7 linked regions of the Homo sapiens genome follow. The protein of the gene in region 1 purifies or fractionates together with the protein of each later gene. This does not show direct contact. Each region holds a gene or a part of one and is shown in the gene's direction. Other genes may lie near its edges.

Region 1 (3,500 bases):
AAACTTCAAGTCAAATTAGTAAGCTTTATTAATGACTACAAAATTTAACATGATATTGAGAAGCTACAACTCAATTTTTTTTGTCATTGTATATAGATTTTGTAAAGTTAAAATCACAAGGACAAAGTAATTTATTTTGATGAAACTCAGAATTGTTAAAAATTCTTTCACTTTTTTAATAGCACAAATGTGCGGCCTGGTGACTGGCTTCCCTGGGGGATGGCTGCTCTGTGAGGGGCTGCCAGACCCTCTGCCTTGATTCCTGTTCTTGGCCAGCCCAGGGTGGTGAGCCTGTGGAAGGAGGAGGGTAGACTGTGCCTGCCCTGGGGGTGGGAGTGGGGAGGACAAAAGACAGTGTTCCAGCTGCCGTCTGGCGTTTGCTGATTCTGAGTCACTGGATGAGAGTGAGGTGTGTGTATTTGCCTGCTGAGTGGGTGTGAATCTCACCCCGGAACCCAGGCCTGCCCAAATACCCAGGAGCTCCAAGAGCAGCCTGTGTCAGGCTTTAATCTGTGGACACAAGCTCTGTGCTGTCATTCGCGTGTCATCGTTCGTGTCTTGGGCTATCCCTAGTATCCTCGCACACAAGCTCTGTGCTGTCATTCGCGTGTCATCGTTCGTGTCTTGGGCTATCCCTAGTATCCTCGCACACAAGCTCTGTGCTGTCATTCGCGTGTCATCGTTCGTGTCTTGGGCTATCCCTAGTATCCTCGCACACAAGCTCTGTGCTGTCATTCGCGTGTCATCGTTCGTGTCTTGGGCTATCCCTAGTATCCTCGCACACAAGCTCTGTGCTGTCATTCGCGTGTCATCGTTCGTGTCTTGGGCTATCCCTAGTATCCTCGCACACAAGCTCTGTGCTGTCATTCGCGTGTCATCGTTCGTGTCTTGGGCTATCCCTAGTATCCTCGCACACAAGCTCTGTGCTGTCATTCGCGTGTCATCGTTCGTGTCTTGGGCTATCCCTAGTATCCTCGCACACAAGCTCTGTGCTGTCATTCGCGTGTCATCGTTCGTGTCTTGGGCTATCCCTAGTATCCTCGCACACAAGCTCTGTGCTGTCATTCGCGTGTCATCGTTCGTGTCTTGGGCTATCCCTAGTATCCTTGCATATTGTTTCGCCTGCCCAGAACATGTGTGTTTGAGGTTGTCTTGCTCTCTCATATAACATGTGCCTCTTGCTATCTCTTGTGTAACATATATGTTCTATATAGGACCCTGATTCTACCTTCCCCCTTCTGGAGGGACCACCCCACCCTTGGCAGGTTGGGGGAGGGCAGGACTCTATTAGGGGTCTAGAGATACCTGGGCCATTTCATCTGCACCACCAGTTCTCCTCCGTGGGAGCGTTTCTGGGTCCAGGGCTGGGCCCCTGCCAACCCCAGGGAGCACTGTCAGTGTCACACCTGGCCAATCCCCTAGCCAGGTGACCAGGCCTGTCTTTCACTCTAAGACTGCGCCTGTGAGGGGCCAGGTGCCTGCCTCCTGCGGGGCTCTGCTGACCACACTCTCAGAGGATATCTGCTGAGACCAGAGCTCACAGGCCTAGCCTGGCAGCCGTATTACTGAATAATGGCCAAGTTAGGAAGGTTCCCAGGGCTGGGGGTCCTGGGGTAGGCTTCTTGGAGGAGGTAGGACTGGAGCTGGCTGGGGTGGGGCAGGATCCATGCAAGGGGCCAGAATCTGCACATGGGCCAGGATCTGTGCATTGAGGCCAGGATCTCTGCATGGGGGCAGGAGTCTCTGCGGGGAGGACTTTTAGGGGGTAACAGGATCTGTGCAGCGTGCAGGATCTTTGCAGTGGGGCCAGGATCTGTGCAGTGGGTAGGATCTACATTGGGAGTCAGTGTCTGTTCAAGGGAGTCGGGGGACAGGACCCGTCCAGGGAGGGCAGGATCTGTACAGAGGGACCAAGATCTACGCACGGGGATAGCATCTATGTGGGGTGGGGGCACGGTCTGTGCCAGGTTTTGGGGGCACTAGATCTTTGCAGGTGTGGCCAGGATCTGTGCAAGGGGTAGGATCTGTGCAGAGTGGCCAGGATCTGTGCAGAGTGGCCAGGATCTGTGCAGGGAGGCCAGGATCTGTGCAGAGTGGCCAGGATCTGTGCAGGGAGGCCAGGGTCTGTGCAGAGTGGCCAGGATCTGTGCAAGGGGTAGGATCTGTGCAGAGTGGCCAGGATCTGTGCAGGGAGGGTAGGATCTGTGCAGAGTGGCCAGGATCTGTGCAGAGTGGCCAGGATCTGTGCAGGGAGGGCAGGATCTGTGCAGGGAGGGCAGGGTCTGTGCAGAGTGGCCAGGGTCTGTGCAGAGTGGCCAGGGTCTGTGCAGAGTGGCCAGGATCTGTGCAAGGGGTAGGATCTGTGCAGAGTGGCCAGGGTCTTTGCAAGGGGGCAGGATCTTTGCAGGGGGGACAGGTTGTGTGCAGGCAGGTGCGCAGGGTCAATGCAGGGGGCAAGGTCTGTACCGTGGGCTAGGGGTCTATGTGGGTGGGGGGCAGGTTCTGCGCAGGGGGCCTAGGCTGTTCAGCATGCCAGGGTCTGTGCTGGGGGTTTGCCGCAGGCACAAGGGAGGGAGAAGCTGTCCTGGGTTCTATGGTTATGAACATGTCAGGGCAGAATGACACAGAACACACAAGAAGTTCAAGGGAACACATTATGAGATTGTGAACACCTGGACTGGGGAGGCCACGGCCTTCTGCTGGACCCTGAACGGCTCCCACAGAGGGAGTTGAGGTCTCTATTGACTCCTGAAAGGCCAGGCAAGGCAGAGCTGGGAGCTGCCTTGGTGGGGGTGCAGGTGGCTGGTTGCTATTGCTGGGTGAGAAGGCTTGGGGTCAAAAGAGGTGGGGGTCAGGGAGCTAGGTCTGACCTCGTCCCCCCTCCTTTCTTCCTGTCCTCCTATCCCCAGCGTGTTTTCCTCCCTCTTCTCCCATCCTTCCTTACCCATCCTCTCTCTTGATCTCTCCATACTTCCTCCCCACTCCTTTCCCTTTCCTCCTCCTCCCCATCCCAACCCCTCATCCTCCCTGTCTCTGCCTGTAGGGAGGAAGCTGTGGGGTGACCCAGGTGGAAGACAGACATGCGAAGGGAGAGGTGTCTGCAGTAGCAGGGATGAGGTGCTTGTGTCCCACACTCTGCCCTGGCCTCTGACACTGGTTCCTGGTCCGGGGACATCAGGTTGGGCTCCTTTGTCCTTCCCTTACGAGGTCTCTGCTCTGCCCACCCTCAGTGCCTACAGTGCCCAGGCTGGGTCCCAGGCTGGGAGGCAGGCTCAGGAAGCTCGGGTAGGAGGGTCTAGGGTCTCCTGCTCAGACGTTGGTGAGCCCAGCTGGGGCGGAGGGCTGCAGGAGTCCGAGCCTGCCTGGATTCCTGCCCCCTCTCGGCTCCTGAGGTCAGGGGGCTCACCCTCGAGCTTTGCCTGGAGAGCGTGTTTGTGCATGTGTGTGTCCTCTGGGTGTCGGAGGGCCTTGGTCTGTGTCTGCCTGTTCCCAAAGGTGTC
Region 2 (3,500 bases), on another chromosome or scaffold:
GACCCTGTCTCAAAAAAAAAAAAAAAAAGAAAAAAGAAAAAAAAGAAACTGCCTCTCTCTGCCATCCTCTTCCTATCTGCAGCGAACCTCCACATCAAATTGCCTTAGGATGCTGGATCTTGACTGTTCTGTGGTATTGCCATTTTATCTTAAGTTGAACTATTTAGAAACAAAAGCATTTCCCAAGTTGATTTTTTTTCCCTTACATTTGATTACATACCCTTCTAATTATTCTCTACTTTGCAGTTCCAGCTTCTTTTTCCCTCTGTGATGGTTGTAGTAGAACAAATTAAAAGTCAAAAGGTGAGAACTTTCCTTATTCCTTTTGCTTTGCTAAGCACTGAGGGAATATTACTAATTAATTTTGCTTTACATTATTTTTCGAAGACCCTAGTTTTTAGTAGTTTTTATTTATTCATTCATTTAACAATATCTGCTTGGTTATCATGTTAAGTGTCAGGAATGCAAAAGTATGACTCTGCCTTTAAACACCTCCTGGTCCAGAAGGTAGAGGAAATGTTCATAGATGTTCCCAAGAATGTTGTTGGGGTAAGAAAAAAAGTGCTGTGGATGTTTGCAGGTGAGAGGAACCTGCAGTAAGGTTTTAGAACTGTTGGGTGTGAAGCAGAAAGTTAATTCTTAGGAAGAAGGTAATAGGTTTATGGTTAGTGTGCTGGCAGTTTTCTGAGAATTTTGAGATCAGTGAGTGAAAGCCAGATGTTTAATAAATATGCCTATTCTTATCACAAGTTTTTATCAGGTGTATTGAGAAGTTAGGAGAATGTCTTTCTGGGCAGAGTTAATAAGTCTGAGGAATAAATGCTTTGAGATTTCATATTAGAAGAATCTGCTGTCCTATTGAATTGGTCCACAATTGGACCAAGTGGACAAATGGATTAAACATCTTTAGCTCAAGTCGTCATTTTTTTTAAGCTCTTTATTTGTGCCTTAGCTTATTAGGGGTGTTCATTTTCATTAATGTAACTAGTAAACCAGTTAATCTGCCACATTGCTGCATCATTTTTAACTGTGTAAGTGTAGAAACAGTGCTCTGCTATGTTCATGCTGTGCCAGCAAAGCCAGTGGTGGGTGCTCATTGGCCCTTCAAAGCTGATTGTCCTCATCAAATAACAACATCCAGCTTTTACTGTCACTGGCTGTGTACTAGGCACTGTGCTAAGTGCTTTAAATACATTATCACACACAATCCACTAAAGGGCTAAGTTGGTTAAGGGGTGTGCCCAGTGTCACACAGATAGTAGTAAATGGGTTTATATCCCAGCTCTATCTGGCTCCAAAGAGTGTGCTCTTAACCACTAGATTAAACTATCTCCCAAAATAAAAGGAGACATTCTAGGCAAATAGAGTTAATGAGGACAGCATAAGGGAGCCAGGCCTAGCTGCACGTCTCAGTTGGCCTTCAACTTCCGCTGGCTATAGGAAGGAGAGTGGAAAATAGGGGGATTGCAGATGGCTGAATCTTCCTCCCTGCCAGAATAGTGGTAGAGAAACTAGTGTACCAAGGCTCTTCAGAGTTTTTAAAATCAGGTGGTCAAAATTCTAGGTTTGGGTTGAGAATGGAGATTGATTGCAGACAGGCACAAAGGCGCTTTTTGGAGTAGTGGAAATGTTATAAAACTGGATTGTGGTAATGGTTGCCCAGTGTTTGAAATTTACTAAAAATTGTTTATTAGTATGCTTAAAATGGGTGAATTTCATTGTAAATTATACCTCAAAGTGGTAAAAATAAAAGTCTGGGGACCGGGCATGGTGGCTCACGCCTGTAATCCCAGCACTTCGGGAGGCCGAGGCGGGCGGACCACGAGGTCAGGAGATTGAGTCCATCCTGGCTAACACAGTGAAACCCTGTCTCTACTAAAAATACAAAAAAAATTAGCCAGGCGTGGTGGCGGGTGCCTGTGTCGCACTACTCGGGAGGCTGAGGCAGGAGAATGGTGTGAACCCAGGAGGCAGAGCTTGTAGTGAGCCAAGATTGCACCACTGCACTCCAGCGTGGGCGACAGAGCAAGACTCCGTCTCAAAAAAAAAAAAAAAAAAAAAAGTCTGAAGAACATAGAGGCAGAGGATTTTTGAAAAAGTATATACCTTAGAAGTAGACTGAATTGGGCCTTAACTTGAAATAAAAAGCTTTCCTTGGCTTTGGTGTTCCAACTCTAAATGATTCTGGTTGCTTTAAGTGCAGTGGTTCTCACACTTTACTGTGCATTAGAATCACCTGGAGGGCTTGTGGAAACACTGAGTGCTGGGTTCTAACCAAGAGTTTGCATGTCTGATGAGTCTCCAGGTCATGCTGCTGATGGGAGAGAGGTCCCTCTTTGAGAACCACTATGTGTAAATCTTAGGAGAAAGTTTATCCCCAGTCTCTCCTAGATTGTGCCCTCTTGGTTGAATATGGAATAAGAATGTGTCTTGCATGGACTCTTAGAATGGAATCCAGTTTGACAAGGCCGTATTTTCCACAGATTCATGGTTGTCAAATCCTGGAAACAGTCTACAAACACAGCTGTGGGGGGTTGCCTCCTGTTCGAAGTGCACTGGAAAAGTAAGTCATGGCTTAACTGGGAATTGGTGGTGGAGGTGGGTGGTCAAATTATTTGACTTCTCACATGTTTTATTTTCAGGTCATTTCAGGTTTCCCTCTTGGGAAGGTTATAACCAGGATAGAAAAAGCTCCATGAGCAGAGGAGCCCATGTAACCTTTATTATGGCTCAGGCCTTGCAAAAAGGGCTATAGAGTGTTGAGTGACAAAGCCAGGATTTAGGTGCCTGGATGACCTTGAGGCAATCTTTTTAAATGTTTAGATCCTGTTATCCTTGCAGGAATTCCATTACATGTGCCAGATGTTGCTTGCTGTGTCTAAACATGTGTATTTGAGTAGCTGGTATTTTCAAATTGAAGGTCCTTAAAAATGTTTATGCTTTATAATCCCATAATGCCACTCTTGGGAATTTTATCCTAACAAAACTATTTAATAGAAGAAAATAACTATATGCACAAACGTGTTCATTGCAATGTTGTCTACTATATCAGGAAATTAGAAAATTACCAACAGTAGAAAAAAATTTAAATGATGATATATTCACTTGATAGACTATAAAGCCACTAAAAGTGTAGGTACTATAACATGTAAACTATTTTATATAAATATGTACTGACAAATGATACAAAATTGTATTTATCTTGTGATTACAACAATATGAAAACATGTAGAGTATAATCAAAGACTGCCTGTTTGAGCTTTCCATTTATCCATTTTCCTTATTTTAAAAAAACTGTGACATTCATTGAAAAATTATAATAGATGATCCCTGAGGCCACTCACAACTCTGTTTTGTTCTTTTTTTCTTATTTTATTTTAATTTTTTGTAGAGAGAAGGCTTTGCTATGTTGCCCAGGCTGGTCTCGAACTCCTAGGCTCAACCGATATTCACATCTTGGCCTCCCAAAGTGTTGAGATTACAGGTGTGAGCCACCGCAC
Region 3 (3,500 bases), on another chromosome or scaffold:
GTCTCTCAGTACTGAAGGGCCCCACGGTGTGGAGCTCAGCAGGAAGGCTGAGGTTCCCTGCGGTTTCCTCATGGCTTAGGACTCAAATGCAAATGTATCTAAAGAAAAAGGTGGTTGATAGTCACAATGAAACTTTTATTTACCTCTGGTTGTCTTAAATGCCTAGTATTGTAAAATATGGCAGAAGAATTCACTTTCATGCCTGTAATCCCAACACTTTGGGAGGCCAAGGTGGGCAGATCCCTTGAGTTCATGAGTTTGAGACCAGCCTGGAAAACATGGCAAGACCCCGTCTCTACAAAAAATACAAAAAAATCCAACCTGACCCACATGGCAAGACCCCATCTGCACAAAAAATACAGAAAGTTCCAGCCTGGAGCCTCCACCTGCAGTCCTGCAGCTCCACCCTGGCTCTTCATGAAATCGGCTAAGTCCAGGTGTGGGTGCGTTCAGTGCAGCACCCACGTGCAGGTGACACGCCCATGCACCGCCACAACCACGCTCACACCAGAACATTCCATCATCCGGAAGGCCCGTGTCTCCGCTCCAGTCTGCTTTTCGTGGATGCAAACTCATTTCCTTGAGTCGTGTGTGGGTGACAGCAGATGGGAGGTTTCTTTTGTGCCTGGCGTCTGTAGCGTGTTTTTCTTTTTCTTTTTTTATCTTTTGAGACGGGATCTCACGATGTTCATGATGTTGCCCCGGCTGGTCTTGAGCTCCTGGCCCAAAACAGTCCTCCTGCCTGGGCCTCCCAAGGGGCGTGTCTTTGAGATCTATCCACGTTGAGGTCGTTGCCAGCAGCACATTCCTCTGAGTGCTGAGCCATGCTCCGCTGGTCGGAGGGACCACAGTGTTTCCTCCACTGATAGAGTTTTGGTTTGTTTCCCGTTTTAGGTTATTATACCTGAAACATCTGCATGTAAGTCTTTGACTGGACCTGTGTTTTCATCTGTCTCAGGCCCACGTTTGGGAGTGTGTCTTTGACTGGACCTGTGTTTTCATCTGTCTCAGGCCCACGTTTGGGAGTATGTGGCTGGCTGGATAGCAGACGTAGCATAGGCCTCACTTTTCTGTGCCGTTTTGCAGTCCCACCTGCAGTGCGTGAGCATCTTGCTCCGAGACCTCACCAGCACTCTGCATTGTGATGTTCTTAATTTCAGCCGTTCCAGCAGATGTGCACTGATGCTGTGTCGTGGCTTGGATTTGTGATGCTTTTAATTTCAGCCGTTCCAGCGGATGTGTACTGATGTGTCCTGGCTTGGATTTGCTTTCACGGTGACCAGTGCTGCTCCTCGTTTGTTCATGTGCTTATTGGCCATTTGTATGTTTTCCTTGTGAAGTGTCTGTTCAATTTTTTGCCTATTTTTTCATTAAATTGTTTATTGAGCTGTATGAGTTCTTTATAAATTCTGGATAAAAAGTATTTTTTTTCTTTTTTTTTTTTGAGATTGAGTCTCGCTCTGTCGCCCAGGCTGGAGTGCAGTGGCGCGATCTCGGCTCACTGCAGGCTCCGCCTCCCGGGTTCACGCCATTCTCCTGCCTCAGCCTCCCGAGTAGCTGGGACTACAGGCGCCCACCCACCACACCCGGCTAATTTTTTGTATTTTTAGTAGAGATGGGGTTTCACCGTGTTAGCCAGGATGGTCTCGATCTCCTGACCTCGTGATCCGCCCGCCTCGGCCTCCCAAAGTGCTGGGATTATAGGCGTGAGCCACCGCGCCTGGCCTGATTTTTTTTTTTTTTTTTTTTTTTGAGACAGATCTTGCTCTGTCTCCCAGGCTAGAGTGCAGTGGCACAATCATCCTAGCGCACTGCAGCCTCAACCTGGGCTTAAGCGAATCTGCCACCTCCCGAGTAGCTGGGACTACAGGTGCCTGCCACCACGCCTGGCTAATTTTTTATAGAGATGGGGTCTCACTGTGTTACCCAGTCTGGTCCTGAACGCCTGGGCTCAAGCAATCCTCTTGTCTCAGCCTCCCAAAGCGTTGGGACTACAGACGCGTGCAGCCTACAAAGTTTTATCAGATATATGTATTGTGAATATTTTCTCCCAGTTTGTGACTTGCCTTTTCATTTCTTTAGGGCACAAATAGTTTACATTTCATGGAGGCAAGTCCTGGGCAACATGCTTTAAGTGCATTGTTCACTTAATTTTCATGATGTCCTTGGAAGTCAGAAGCTTCCCCATTTAGATATGAGGAAACTGAGGCACGGAGGGGTGCATCATCTCTCCAAGGACACACTCCAGTGGATGTAGGACCTGGGTTAGACGTGAGGACACACTCCGGTGAATGTAGGACCTGGGTTAGACGTGAGGGGACACTCCGGTGGATGTCGGACCTGGGTTAGACGTGAGGACACACTCCGGTGGATGTCGGACCTGGGTTAGACGTGAGGACACACTCCGGTGGATGTCGGACCTGGGTTAGACGTGAGGACACACTCCGGTGGATGTCGGACCTGGGTTAGACGTGAGGACACACTCCGGTGGATGTCGGACCTGGGTTAGACGTGAGGACACACTCCGGTGGATGTCGGACCTGGGTTAGACGTGAGGACACACTCCGGTGGATGTAGGACCTGGGTTAGACGTGAGGACACACTCTGGTGGATGTAGGACCTGGGTTAGACATGAGGAAACTGAGGCACAGAGGGGTGCATCATCTCTCCGAGGACACACTCCGATGGATGTAGGAACTAGGTCTCTGCCTCCATTTGCAGATGGTCATGCAGAGGGGGTCTCAGGCGAGTGTCTGGCACAGGCAGTGGCTGGGGTCTGGTGGCCCCCAGTTCTGATACTAGGCTGGTTGTGGGCTTTTCCACCAGCGATGGGACAGGACAAGACTGCAAAGGGAGCGCCCTGCCTCCTCCTCCCACGTCTGGGCTCTGACAGGCCAGAGGACGGGCAGACCCACGGCTCGTGGCTCACTCCAGCTAGCAGCGGTCACTCTGCAGGCCTCTGCTCAGGCCCCTTCTCAGCTCTTGGTGTCTTGGGCTGCTGCACTGAATCTCAGATGTTATTTCATGAACCCAAAGAGTTGTTGTCTCGGCTTGTCTTGCGCAGTGAAAAGCGCGTGTTTTACGTGTCCAGTTGCTCTTAATAGCAGATACCTGCCCTGGACGCCAGTGGCAGCATGTGCCCTCTGAGCAGCGGCCTTCAGCTTCCCAGGAACACGGGGCTCTTCCTGTCCAGCCTCCTGGGGGCTGGTCTCAGCCCTGACTGGCCAGCAGACGCAGGGTCATCTCGGAGTTACCCAGCTAGGGACTCGCAGCCAGTTGCTGGTTGGGAGTTGGAGAGTGGAGTTTAAGCCCTCTCCTTGACGTAGAGAGGATTTGGGGCCTGTTACGTGAGTATTTAGCAATGCTGCCCAAGCTCTGACACCATGCTTATGCGTTTTTGGATTTCAGGCGAGCCCACACCTTAACCGTGCTCTTCATCCTCACCTGTACGCTTGGCTATGTGACGCTGCTGGAGGAAACACCTCAGGACACGGCCTACA
Region 4 (3,500 bases), on another chromosome or scaffold:
ATAAATAAATAAAATAAAATAATAAGCCTGGCGCAGTGGCTCACGCCTTTAATCCCAACAGTTTGGGAGGCTGAGGCAGGAGGACTGCTTGAGGTCAGGAGTTTGAGACAAGCCTGGACAACATAGTAAGAACCCATCTCTACCAAAAAATGTGAAGGCTGGGCGCAGTGGCTCATGCCTGTAGTCCCAAGACTTTGGGAGGCCGAGGCGGGTGGATCACCTGAGGTCAGGAGTTCGAGACCAGACTGGCCAACATGGCAAAACCCCATCTCTACTAAAAGTATAAAAATTAGCCAGGCGTGGTGATGGGTGCCTGGAATCCCAGCTACTCAGGAGGCTGAGACAGGAGAATAGCTTGAGCCTAGGAGGCAGAGCTTGCAGTGAGCCGAGATCGTGCCACCTCACTCCAGCCTGGGCGACAAAAGCGAGATTCTGTCTCAAAAAAAAAAAAAAAAAAAAAAAAATTTTTTTAAATTAGCCAGGCGTGGTGGTACATGTCTGTAGTTCCAGCTATTTGGGAGGCTGACCCGGGAGGTTGAGGCTGTAGTGGGCCATGATTGAACCACTGCACTCTAGCCTGTGTGACAGAGGGAGACTCCATCTCAAGAAAATAATAATAATAATAATTATTATAATAATAATAATTATTATTATTATTTTTAAAAATTTTTTCTCTGGCTGCTTTGCTGCCAGCTTCACCCCAGAAGTCCATTCTCTGTGAGGTTCCGCCTGACAGCTGTGAGCATATTGACTAAATGCTGTCTTCAAGGTGCATGGCAGGGACTATCTTAGAAATACCATTCTCCTCTTTCATTCTTTGACTTAATGTTTTATGTGAAGTTTTCCATATTAGGGCCGGGCAGGGTGGCTCACGCCTGTAATCCCAGCACTTTGGGAATCCGAGGTGGGTGGATCACTTGAGGTCAGGAGTTCAAGACCAGCCTGGCCAACATGGCAAAACCCCATCTCTACTAAAAATACAAAAATTAGCCAGGCGTGATGGTGGGCGCCTGTAATCCCAGCTACTTGGGAGGCTGAGGCACAAGAATTGCTTGAACCTGGGAGGTGGAGGTTGCAGTGAGCTGAGATCGAGCCACTGCACTCCAGCCTGGACGACAGAGCAAGACTGTGTCTCAAAAAAAAAAAAAGTTTACTGTTTTCCATATTAGCAATGTTGAATGCTACCCTATGTCAAATGGATTTTTATACGCAAAGGATTAAGCATATTGTGAGCACATAGTCTGATGATTTGGGGCAAACTGAACAGAATCACGTCAGCTGCAACGAGACTGCGTCTCCCTGAAGCCCCCTCAAGACCTTATTTAGCCCCTGCCCCCCAACCCAAGGGTAACCCCTGATCTGGCTGCTAACAGCATAGATTAACTTTGCCTGTGTTCAAACTTCCTATTAACGGAATAATTCAGTATGAACTCATTTCTGGCTCTTTTTGGCTGAACATGTTTTTGACGTTCACCCATGCAGGTGCAGGCAGCAGTAATGTATTTGTTTTTATCAATGTTAGTATTCCATTGTCCACAATTTATCTTTTCTGCTGTTAGTGGACATTTGAGTAGTTTGCAGTTTTGGACAATTTTTTTTTTTTTTGAGTTGGAGTCTCACTCTGTTGCCCAGGCTGGAGTGCAGTGTCACGATTTCGGATCACTGCAACCTCCACCTCCTGGGTTCAAGGGGTTCTCGTGCCTCAGCTTCCCAAGTAGCTGGGATGACAGGAGTGTACCATCATGCCCTGCTAATTTCTGTATTTTTAGTAGGGATGGGGTTTCACCATGTTAGCCAGGCTGGTCTCGAACTCCTGATCTCAAGTGATGCGCCTACCTCGGCCTCCCAAAGTGCTGGGATTACAGGCGTGAGCCACTGCACCTGGCTGTTTTGCACTATTATGCATGTGGCTGCTATGAGCATTCTAGTCCCTGTCTTTGGGTGTCTCTGCCCTGTTTCTATTGGTCTGAATTGGGGGTGGCATTGCTGGGTGCTGCCTCATTCTTTTCCAGGCCCTCAGGATTCTCTGGGGGCTGGGCAGCTGGGCTGTGGCCCTCGTGTCGCTCATCCAACCCTGCTGCCGGGCTTGTCCCTGTAACTTGCCTGCCCTTGCTCGTCCTCCAGGTGTGTCTGACGCTGACCGCCAAGCGCATGGCCCGGAAGAACTGCCTGGTGAAGAACCTGGAGGCTGTAGAAACCCTGGGCTCCACGTCCACCATCTGCTCAGATAAGACAGGGACCCTCACTCAGAACCGCATGACAGTCGCCCACATGTGGTTTGACAACCAGATCCACGAGGCTGACACCACTGAGGACCAGTCAGGTGAGCGCAGGCCCCGGGTGAGGACCATGGGGGCCTGGCTCCAGGAGTCCCTGGCCCTCACACATGCCTCCCCCAGGGACCTCATTTGACAAGAGTTCGCACACCTGGGTGGCCCTGTCTCACATCGCTGGGCTCTGCAATCGCGCTGTCTTCAAGGGTGGTCAGGACAACATCCCTGTGCTCAAGGTGGGTTCAGCTACTGGCCTCACCTCGGCCCTGCCTGTGTCCTCCCCTCAGCTGTCCCTGTTCTGACAACCCTTTCTCCTTGCAGAGGGATGTGGCTGGGGATGCGTCTGAGTCTGCCCTGCTCAAGTGCATCGAGCTGTCCTCTGGCTCCGTGAAGCTGATGCGTGAACGCAACAAGAAAGTGGCTGAGATTCCCTTCAATTCCACCAACAAATACCAGGTACTCTGGGCTTTCCGGGAGAGCCAGCCTGGACCTCAGGTTCCTTATGACGCCTGTAAAGAGGTGTCATAGAGCCTTGATTTTCCCGTCTGTAAAATGGGAATGATAATACCCGCCTGGTGGGGAGAGGAACAGGGAGAGCTTGAGAGTGGGAGCCGGATCTCTGTTGGAGTGAGACGCTGAGGAGTAAAGATCTTCCTGCAGGCCAGGCGCGGTGGCTCACACCTTTAACACCAGAACTTTGGGAGGCTGAGGTGGGGGGATCACTTGAGGCCAGGAGTTCGAGACGAGCCTGGGCAAGATGGCAAAACCCCATCTGTACGAAATTTTTTTTTTAATTAGCCAGGTGTGGTGGTATGTGCCTGTGGTCTCAGCGATTTGGGAGTCTGAGGCAGGAGGATTGCCTGAGCCGGGGAGGTTGGGGCTGCAGAGAGCCTACATCACGCACTGTACTCCAGCCTGGGTGACAGAGCAAGACCCTGACTCAAAAAAAAAAAAAAAGTTTTCCTACAGCAGAGAGTGGGAACAAGCAGGAGACCTCTTGGGGCAGAGCAGCAACTTTAAATTATTCAGCAAACTTTTTTTTTTTTTGAGACAGAGTTTCGCTCTGTCACCCAGGCTGGAGTGCAGTGGCGCGATCTCAGCTCACTGCAAGCTCCACCTCCCGGGTTCACACCATTCTCCTGCCTCAGCCTCCAGAATAGCTGGGACTACAGGCGCCCGCCACCATGCCCAGCTAATTTTTTGTATTTTTAGTAGAGACGGGGTTTC
Region 5 (3,500 bases), on another chromosome or scaffold:
CCTGGATAATGGTGACTGAATGATTGATGGAACTGACTTTTTGCTTTCCTTTTTTCTTTCTCCACTGGTGGCCCTATGTTCCTATTAAGAGAATCTTCCAGCCAGGCATGGTGGCACACGCCTGTAATCCCAGACTTTGGGAGGCTGAGGCAGGCAGATCACGAGGTCAGGAGATTGAGACCATCTTGGCTAACACGGTGAAACCCTCTCTCTACTAAAAATACAAAAAATTAGCCAGGTGTGGTGGCACGCGCCTGTAGTCCCAGCTACTCGGGAGGCTGAGGCAGGAGAATCGCTTGAACCGAGGAGGCAGAGGTTGCAGTGAGCCGAGATCCCGCCACTGCACTCCAGCCTGGGTGACAGAGCAAGACTCTGTCTCAAAAAAAAAAAAAAAATCTTTCTGCCTGTTTTTTGAAATAGCCACAGGAGTGAGGCAATCTCAGCTCCTGCTCACACATCTTTTTGTAGAATTTCCATCACAAAGAATGGTTATTAGAATCTCTACTCTTGGCCCAAAGTGTCTGTTTGCTTTTCTCCCAATCAGGAAATCACACTGTTGGATCTTGATCTTAATCTCTTGGACATGCCAACTTTCTTGCTTCTTAATATCATATAAATAAAAAATGTTATTAAGCCAGAGACTTACTTTTCCTTTTTCTCCCCTCTTCTCTTTTTCAGTGGATACCTCATTGTTATGCCTCATTGAAATGAAGAGCTAGGTTTCTCTGCTTCTCCTGGTCTTTCATATATTTTGTTAAATTGAGAATGTCTTGTCTCACGTGCTCCTCTCCTGCCAGGAACTGGCTGAGTGAATGCGAAGAGACTCTGGATGTGGAAAGCGGTGATTGTCAAACTTTATTTGTAAAAGAGTCTCTTGGAAGCTTGTTATAATGCGGATACCTTGTTCTCTACATGGTGATTCTGAGCAGGTCTAGGGTGAGGATTGGAATCTGCATTTATACTCGCTCTTGGGTGATTCTAATGCTGGTCAGCCTTGGACCCCACTTTTAGAGACATTATCTAGTGGCTGAAGTAATTAGGTGGGAAGTTGGTTTCAGTGCCCATCCTAATTGAGCATGAGTCTGGGTGATCTGTGGGCAAGGCATTAAGTGTTCTGGCACCATCTCAATACCTGTTAAATAGTGTGATTCAGATTAGAGGATGAGGGCCCCAAGTTATTGTGAAGAGGGTTTTAAGGTAGCTGTAGAGTTCCACTGGCTTGTTTGGTGACTGTTAGTTATGTCAATGGAGTATTTCAACCAGGCCACCTTTATTACCTTCCAGTGATATATGGAATATATCCCTCCAGTCCTTCTATATCCCCCCGCTTTCCAGTCTCTAAGATCTGCAGGGACTAACAAGAGGGAATGTTGACACATGGTTTGTTGTATGCTAACTCTCTGTTTGCAGGACTGTTGTTTTAGATGTTCGTGGGAGTTTATTCTTTCTTGCGTTCACTCAACAGATATTTATCGAATGCCTATTGTGTGCCAAACATTGGTGCCAGGTATTGGAGATTCAAAGAGAAATAAGAAGCAGTCATTGTTGATGTACTTTCAAAAACAAAACCAAAAACAAAAAAAAAAGAAGAAGTAGCCTTTGCCTTCATTTTGTTCACAGTTTTGATGAGATGGACAAGGAAATAGATCAACTAAATTACAACATTACATGTATAGTAACAGATTTGAACAAAGCATAGGGGACAGGGGTCTTTTTTTTTCCTAATGCAATTAAGGAAAGCTTCCTAGAAGAGGTGGCATTTGAGCTGGCTCATGTTAGCTCCATGAAAGCAAGGACCCTTGGTTTTTGTTCTCTTAGTGCCTAGAACAGGGACTGGCTCTAGTAGGTGCTCAATAAATGTATTTGAATGCGTAGGAATTCATTGGGTGATGGAGGAAGGAAAGCAATTCTAGGCATAAGAAACAATAAGTGCAAAGGCTATGTGCTATCTCCCCATTTCTCCTATTTAATATCTATTCACTTACCCAGGGTTCAAGTAGACAGGAAGAGGATGGATGTGGAGAGCAGTGATTATCAAACTTTATTTGTGAAAGAATCCCTTGGAAGCTTGTTATAATGTAGATGTCTAGCTCTCTTCATAGCAATTCTGAGCAGGTCTAGGATGAGGATGGGAATCTGCATTTATAAGAAACTCCCAGATGATTCTAATGCCTGTGAGCCTTTGACCTCACTTTGAGAGATCCTACCATAAGTTCGCAGAGTTGCTTCCTCCTTCACAGAAAAGTGTCTCAACTGTAACCTGGAATTATTTGCTTATTATTATCAGGGGTAGATGTCTTACTTCTCCCTTGGCCAACTAAGTGAAACTCTAGGAATGCTCTGTCATTTCTAGGCTGTTGATAAACGACCTGCAGATGCCCTTGAATCCTCGATAGGGGATGAGATAGAAAATTGTGTTCTCTGTGCTGTCCCAAGGAGGGCCCACACTGTCAACAACAGAGGCACACAACATTGGGGTAAGTGAACAGACATTAAATGTGAGAAATAAGGAGATAGCAGGCATCCCACCTGCAACCAGTAGATGCTTTTTAGTGGCTTGTGGATGGTTGCTGCTCTAAAGTCCACAGCAGCACTAATGAAGTGTGGTGCCATCTTTCTACCTTTCTTTTTCATATCTCTTCTTCCCTGTTTCCAAGTCTGTCCACCTGATCCACCCCACACAAGTTCCAAAACAATCCTTTCTATAATTCAAAATGCCCATCTCATCAGAGGAGATGATAGCCATGGGGGATTAGGAAGAAAGCAGTTTTATTTCAGAGGTTCATACTGAAATGTGAGTGGACAGACTCCACTGGGCGTCAGGGAGAGGATGAGTTTTAAAAAAGGGCCTTGTTACCCTAACATTATATCTAATTGGTAGACTGTGTCTAGTGTTTTTAAGCAGATGTCCTTTCTCATGTGCCTTGCTCAGGTTTTGGCCTCTTCTCTCCCGCTAAAGCCCCTGATCAGGAGAACTGGAGTTATCCATGCCTTGCCACCCTACATGCTGACCCCCAGGGTTTCATATTAATGTAAATCTCCCTCCACAGTGCTTGGATGCAGCAGTTAATCTGAAGGCCTGGCGAGGACCCCTCTTCTGGGCACCAGTCAGTCCTCTGTGTTTACTCAGCTCTTTCCTGGCTACACAGGGCAGCGCTTGCACATCTGTCAGTTCATGGGCATCAAGGCACTTGGACCTGTTACCAGCATGAGATCCTGAAGGGAAGGGTTTGGGGGATCTCTTGATTGGTTTTGGTTCCCGTCTAGTAGCTGCTGGAGGAAATGGCAGAGGGAGGAAGGATAATATGAGTTTTATTCTGAGCTGGGTGGTGTTGAGGGAAGGGAATGGATTGCAGGAGCCAGGAGGTCAGACAGGATTGGCCTGTTTGGCGAAAACAGTGCAAGCTCTGCCCTGTGGCCATGTGTTTAGGTGGGTAGGAGAGGGAGGAGTGAGATCATCTGGAGGGGAAAGGAAGCATGGTACCATCCTAATTCTAGCC
Region 6 (2,648 bases), on another chromosome or scaffold:
CACCTTGGCTCCCAGCTTGGCTCCCAGCTTCCCCAAACCCCCTGCTTCCCACTATCAGTGGGAAGTGTAAATTTTTTTTTTTTTTTTTGAGACAGAGTCTCGCTCTGTCGTCCAGGCTGGAGTGCAGTAGCGCAATCTTGGCTTACTGCAACCTCTGCCTCCCGGGTTCAAGTGACTCTCCTGCCTCAGTCTCCTGAGTAGCTGGGATTACAGGCGCCCGCCACCATACCTGGCTAATTTTTGTATTTTTAGTAGAGATGGGATTTTGCCATATTGGCTGGTCTTGAACTCTTGACCTCAGGTGATCTGCCGGCCTCAGCCTCCCAAAGTGCTGGGATTACAGGGAAGTGTAAATTGTACACTATCATTTCTTAGCACAGGGAACCAAAGTCCAGCAGAGCTCCATGTAAAATGTATAGCCTCAGGAGCCAAGCAAAACTGAGCTTCAGTACTCAGCCACTGTGTGACTTAGGGCAGGTCTCAGAACCTCTCTGAGCCTCAATTTCCTCATGTATAAATTGGGTGTGGCCAATACCTATTTTTCAGGGTAGTTGTAAGAAATAGAGATGAGAGAAAGAATCGAAGAACAAGATTTTGTAGTGTGTGTGTGTGTGTGTGTGCGTGTGTGTGTGTGTGTGTGTGTGTGTGTGTGTGTGTTTTAAGCATTGGGATTGGGCCGGGCCAGGTGGCTCATGCCTGTAATCCCAGCACTATGGGAGGCTGAGGCAGGTGGATCATTTGAGCTTGGTAGTTCAAGTCCAGCCTGGGCAACATGGCACAATCACATCTCTACAAAAATTAGCCAGGTGCAGTGGCGCACACCTGTAGTCTTAGCTACTGGGAAGCTGAGGTGGGAGGATCACTTGAACCCATGAGGTCAAGGCTGCAGTAACCAAGGTCATGCCACTGCACTCCAGCCTAGGCAATAGAGCGAGACCCTGTCTCCCAGAAAAAGAAAAAAGAAAGGAAAAGTCGGAACCTTCCTCTGTCGCCTAGGCTGGAGTACAGTGGCATGATCATAGGTCATTTACCTCAGGCAAAGAGACAGGCTTTCAAATAATGTTTCTAACTATAAGAAAATGTACAGTTCTTTTATTCTAGATAGTTAATTATAATAGAATTGGTGACTTTGAAGTCAGTGGGTTATTTATCTTGAGGGTGGTGAGCAAATTCAACTGCCCTTGGCAAACAGTAGTTTACAGCTTTAAGGGCGCAAACACCCTTCCTTACAACAGTCTAATAAAAGGAGTTTCATATAACCAGCATTCATTGTTTCAAGGTTACAAATCCACAGCCCCTGCAGGTAACTGTTACAATAAACTGTCAACTGTGACAGGAAAGTCTTCTGCCTTTGAAATTTAGGAACTTGGCCAGTCCTGGTGGCTCACACCTGTAATCCCAGCACTTTGGGAGGCCAAGGCAGGTGAATCACCTGAGGTCAGGATCAGGAGTTTGAGACCAGTCTGGCCAACACAGTGAAACCCCGTCTCTATTAAAAATGCAAAAATTAGTTGGGCGTGGTGGCACCTGCCTGTCATCTCAGCTACTCGCTAGGCTGAGGCAGGAGAATTGCTTGAACTCCGGATATGGAGGTTGCAGTGAGCCGAGATTGCAGTACTGTACTCCAGCCTGGGCCACAGAGCGAGACTCCATCTCCAAAAAAAAAGACTTAGGAACTCAATTCTGTGATAGCAAAATACAGAAATAGAGATTATACTTTAGGCTAGGTGTTGTGGCTCACACCTGTAATCCCAATGCTTTTGGAGGCTAGGGTGGGAGGATCACTCGAAGCCAGGAGCTTGAGACCAGACTGGACAACATAGTGAGACCCCCCACCTCTACAAAAAATTAAAAAAAAAAATAAGCCAGGTGGGAGAATTGCTTGAGCCCAGAAGTTTGAGAGAGCAGCCTGGGTAACATCACGAGACCTCATCTCTACAAAAAACAACAACAGGGTGTGGTGACATTCACCTGTAATCCCAGCTACTCGGGAGGCTGAGGCAGGAGGATCGCTTTAGCCCAGGAGTTCCAGGCTGCAGTGAGCCATAATCATGCCACTGTACCCCAGCCTGGGTGAGACCCTATCTCAAAAAAAAAGATTACACTTTCATATTATGGCAAAAGCATGTAAATATCCTCCAGCCTCCTTCCTTATTTATCTGAGCAGTGCTGCAAGCCCAGGGTTTGTACCCACAAAACCCCAAATTTATAACTCAGGGTGCTTGTAGATACCACTGAAACATGTAGCTTATGGTTTTAAGCTACATGTTTTTAGCTATAATGTTTTTTGTTTTGTTTTGTTTTTTGAGATGGAGTCTCGCTCTGTTGCCCAGGCTGGAATGTAGCGGTGCAATCTTGGCTCACTGCAACCCCTGCCTCCCAGATTCAAGCGATTCTCAAGCCTCAGCCTTCCGAGTAGCTGGGATTACAGGTGCGCCACCACGCCCAGCAAATTTTTTGTTTTGTTTTGTTTTGTTTTGTTTTTTAGAGACAGAGTTTTGCTCTTGTAGCTCAGGCTAGAGTACAATGGCGTGATCTTGGCTCACTGCAACCTCCGCCTCCCAGGTTCAGGCGATTCTTCTGCCTCAGCCTCCTGCGTAGCTGGGATTACAGGCACGTGCCACCACACCTGGCTAATTTTTGTATTT
Region 7 (3,500 bases), on another chromosome or scaffold:
AGGACAGATTGTGATGAAAGCTTGTTATCCCAGGGTTGAACTCAGGCTATAATCCTGTAATAGAATTAGTAGACTTCGCAGAGAAATTAACCACTAGGCATCTGTCCCACAACCAAGTTCCTTTTGTATGTATGACACATTTATCAGAGCATTTGTAGATAAGGTCTAACTGAGTTCAGTTGGCATTTAATTCATTTCTAAGCCTGGATGATCTTGTAGTAATTGCAGCCAGATGTTGGCTTTATATTTTTATTCCTCGGTCTCAGAGCTAGGCCTTTCTTGGGCAGAGTGAGCTTTGGGAGTGATAGATGAGATTCTTCTCACTAAATGGTTCCATACCTGTGGGAGGGAGTTGAGGGTGGGTAGCTGTTTTTCTATGGTGACAGTTTGGTGCAGTAACCATAGATCATATGAAAGCAAGCAACTAGGTGTTACATTTTCAGCCTTACCTATAAGATTAGTGAGGTTCTGGGTAAAGGTTGACATTAAAGAGGGAGGACAGGAATAGATTTCATTTAAGCAATTAACTGGCCTTTAGAATTGGGGACAGGATATGAGTTGATTAGCTTCTTATTCAGTATTAGAGTATAGAAATGAAACTGTAAGAGGAATAAATTGTCAATCCTTCATGTTTGTATTTTCTTTTAGTGTCTACCATCAGAGGGAGATCTCTGCCCCCTGGGGCTGAGAGACCCCAACCTTTCCCCAAGCTGAAGCTGCAGGGTATTGAGGTACCAGCCAGATGTCTTCCCACAAAGGATCTGTGGTGGCACAGGGGAATGGGGCTCCTGCCAGTAACAGGGAAGCTGACACGGTGGAACTGGCTGAACTGGGACCCCTGCTAGAAGAGAAGGGCAAACGGGTAATCGCCAACCCACCCAAAGTAAGTCATCTTCCCAGGAGTCATCCCCTTGTTCAGTTTCTCTCCTTAGAACTCTGTCATTTTCTCTTTTTTAAGAGCTCACCGTCCAAAAGGAGGAACATTGCATCCTGGAAATGTCTCTATCCAAGTCCCTATGATACTGTTATAAACATCTTGTTGTCTGCTTTCCCCATTGTAAGCTTTTGGGAATGCACTCATCTTTGTAACACCAGTGCTTAGCACAAGGCCTGCAGTCCAATAAATAATCAGTAAATATCTGAATGAATGAAGGAAGCAGTCAATTAGGATTAGGTTTGACTTCATATAACACACAAAAATCCTTACAGTTTTGACAGGACAGAAGTCTCTCAAGCAAAAGAATTTCAGAAGTAACCAATCCAGGGCTGATATGGAGGATCCACCACTGTCAGGCACCTGTGTTGCTCTCCCATCACTCTTAATATGTGCCCATCATACCCACATTCTACCCCCCATGAAAGGGAAACGAGAAGAAAGGCCCTCTCTTTCCCTTTTATTTTTATTGAGATAAGATCTCGCCATGTTGCCTAGGCTGATCTTAAACTCCTAGGCTCAAGTGATCCTCCTGCCTCAGCCTCCCAAAGTGTTGGAATTACAGGTATGAGCCACTGTGCCCGGCCAACTCTTTGCCTTTTAAAGGGACTATCAGGGCCGGGCACGGTGGCTCACACCTGTAATCCCAACACTTTGAGAGGCCGAGGCAGGTGGATCACCTGAGATCAGGAGTTCGAGACCAGCCTGGCCAACATAGTGAAGCCCCCTCTCTACTAAAAACACAAAAATTAGCTGGGTGTGGTGGCAGTCGCCTGTAATCCCAGCTACTCGGGAGGCTGAGGCAGGAGAATCGCTTGAATCTGGGAGGCAGAGGTTGCAGTGAGCCGAGATCGTGCCATTGCACTCCAGCCTGGGCAACGAGTGAAACCCCCTCTCAGAAAAAACAAAAATAAATAAAGGGACTATCAGGAAGTACCTCATAAGACTTCGGCCAGAACTTACTTACATAACTATATTCAGCTGCAGTGGAGGTTAGAAAGTGCAGCCTGAGTAAAATTGCAGTAACATTGCCACCCTGAACAAAACCGTGGGCTTTGTTACTTAGGAAGAGAGAGAATGGATGTTAGGGTAGACTGGCTGGAAGCTGTAGCACAAAATCTAAGATGGACCATGTGTTTACTAGTGACCATCAGCAACAGGAGAGAAATAGCCCAGAAAAGGAGTTGAACTGCCAGGCTTTCTATAGCCATGATTCGGAGCCTTGGGATAGAGAGAGAGAAAGTTCTCTCCCTTTCACAGGCAAGTGCTCTCCTGGGTGTGTTTTTTTTTTTTTTTTTTGGAGACAGAGTCTCGCTGTCGCCCTGGCTGGAGTGCAGTGGCACGTTCTCGGCTCACTGCAGGCTCCGCCCTCCAGGGTTCATGCCATTCTCCTGCCTCAGCCTCCCGAGTAGCTGGGACTACAGGTGCCCGCCACCTCGCCCGGCTAATTTTTTGTATTTTTAGTAGAGACAGGGTTTCACCGTGTTAGCCAGGATGGTCTCGATCTCCTGACCTCGTGATCCGCCCGCCTCGGCCTCCCAAAGTGCTGGGATTACAGGCGTGAGCCACCGCGCCCGGCCCTCTGGGTGCGCTTTTTTAGGCCCTGGAGTCAGTACCGCTGTTTTCCATGGAACCAGTTCTGAGGCCCTGGTACTCCTGGGAGCTGCTGTAGATACAAAGTTTCAATCATGACAGCATCCCTAGAGTCAGTGAACAGGGAACTCTGAACAGAATTATTGTTATGGAACTCTCTGAGACTCTGTGTCTTTTTCGTTGTTTTGAAAACGTAGGCTGGGCATGGTGGCTCAGCCTGTAATCCCAGCACTTTGGGAGGCCGAGGCAGGAGGATCACGTGAGGTCAGGAGATTGAGAACAGCCTGGCCAACATGGTGAAACCCCATCTCTACTAAAAATACAAAAATTAGTCAGGCATGGTGGTGGGCGCCTGTAATCCCAGCTACTTGGAGGCCGAGGCATGAGAATTGCTTGAACCCGGGAGGCGGAGGTTGCAGTGAACAGAGATCGCACCACTGTACTCCAGCCTGGGTGACAGAGGGATATTCCATTTCAAAAAAAAAAAAAGAAAGAAAGAAAATGTAATGGCTTAGAAAAGAGAACTCTTTGGGAAACTGAGGAAAGTTAAGAACCACTATCCTAAAGAAAAGGATGTCATTCAGTACCTAGAGCTGGTGTATTCCCCCAATGCTAGTCTCTGTGACAGTCCTTCTTTTACGCACTGCATAGAATGTTCACTCCAGCATTTACGAAGTATTAATAAATTTCTAACTAGTGTTGTAAACTCAGTGTGTATGCTTTTGGAGAAGAGACCACAAGACCCTCTGTAGGAAAGAGGCTGGGCAGAAGGCATTAGGTTTGGGTTTTTCTGGGTCTCTCTGCTCTGGAATAGTACAATTTATGAGATGACTCCCTGGATTGTTGTGGGTTTTTTCCCCCATAGGCTGAAGAAGAGCAAACATGCCCAGTGCCCCAGGAAGAAGAGGAGGAGGTGCGGGTACTGACACTTCCCCTGCAAGCCCACCACGCCATGGAGAAGATGGAAGAGTTT

Evidence for each region.
Region 2: the proteins of OPRL1 (region 1) and TUBGCP4 purify together in Homo sapiens (affinity purification with mass spectrometry; one large-scale study listed by BioGRID and IntAct). This does not show direct contact.
Region 3: the proteins of OPRL1 (region 1) and PTDSS2 purify together in Homo sapiens (affinity purification with mass spectrometry; one large-scale study listed by BioGRID and IntAct). This does not show direct contact.
Region 4: the proteins of OPRL1 (region 1) and ATP1A3 purify together in Homo sapiens (affinity purification with mass spectrometry; one large-scale study listed by BioGRID and IntAct). This does not show direct contact.
Region 5: the proteins of OPRL1 (region 1) and TMEM164 purify together in Homo sapiens (affinity purification with mass spectrometry; one large-scale study listed by BioGRID and IntAct). This does not show direct contact.
Region 6: the proteins of OPRL1 (region 1) and CLN3 purify together in Homo sapiens (affinity purification with mass spectrometry; one large-scale study listed by BioGRID and IntAct). This does not show direct contact.
Region 7: the proteins of OPRL1 (region 1) and ADIPOR1 purify together in Homo sapiens (affinity purification with mass spectrometry; one large-scale study listed by BioGRID and IntAct). This does not show direct contact.

What each region holds. Positions count from the first base shown.
Region 1 is NC_000020.11:64,086,582-64,090,081, forward strand, and holds part of OPRL1 (nociceptin receptor), read left to right. Parts: coding exon of another isoform or gene 1-18; intron 19-3,043; exon of another isoform or gene 3,044-3,178; intron 3,179-3,500.
Region 2 is NC_000015.10:43,377,601-43,381,100, forward strand, and holds part of TUBGCP4 (gamma-tubulin complex component 4), read left to right. Parts: intron 1-246; coding exon 247-303; intron 304-2,483; coding exon 2,484-2,563; intron 2,564-3,500. UniProt on the Homo sapiens protein: Component of the gamma-tubulin ring complex (gTuRC) which mediates microtubule nucleation.
Region 3 is NC_000011.10:456,779-460,278, forward strand, and holds part of PTDSS2 (phosphatidylserine synthase 2), read left to right. Parts: intron 1-3,408; coding exon 3,409-3,500. UniProt on the Homo sapiens protein: Catalyzes a base-exchange reaction in which the polar head group of phosphatidylethanolamine (PE) or phosphatidylcholine (PC) is replaced by L-serine. Catalyzes the conversion of phosphatatidylethanolamine and does not act on phosphatidylcholine.
Region 4 is NC_000019.10:41,980,731-41,984,230, reverse strand, and holds part of ATP1A3 (sodium/potassium-transporting ATPase subunit alpha-3), read left to right. Parts: intron 1-2,124; coding exon 2,125-2,323; intron 2,324-2,399; coding exon 2,400-2,509; intron 2,510-2,594; coding exon 2,595-2,729; intron 2,730-3,500. UniProt on the Homo sapiens protein: This is the catalytic component of the active enzyme, which catalyzes the hydrolysis of ATP coupled with the exchange of sodium and potassium ions across the plasma membrane.
Region 5 is NC_000023.11:110,009,614-110,013,113, forward strand, and holds part of TMEM164 (transmembrane protein 164), read left to right. Parts: intron 1-3,500.
Region 6 is NC_000016.10:28,479,427-28,482,074, reverse strand, and holds part of CLN3 (battenin), read left to right. Parts: intron 1-2,648.
Region 7 is NC_000001.11:202,948,313-202,951,812, reverse strand, and holds part of ADIPOR1 (adiponectin receptor protein 1), read left to right. Parts: intron 1-648; 5' UTR 649-742; coding exon 743-883; intron 884-3,392; coding exon 3,393-3,500. UniProt on the Homo sapiens protein: Receptor for ADIPOQ, an essential hormone secreted by adipocytes that regulates glucose and lipid metabolism. Required for normal glucose and fat homeostasis and for maintaining a normal body weight.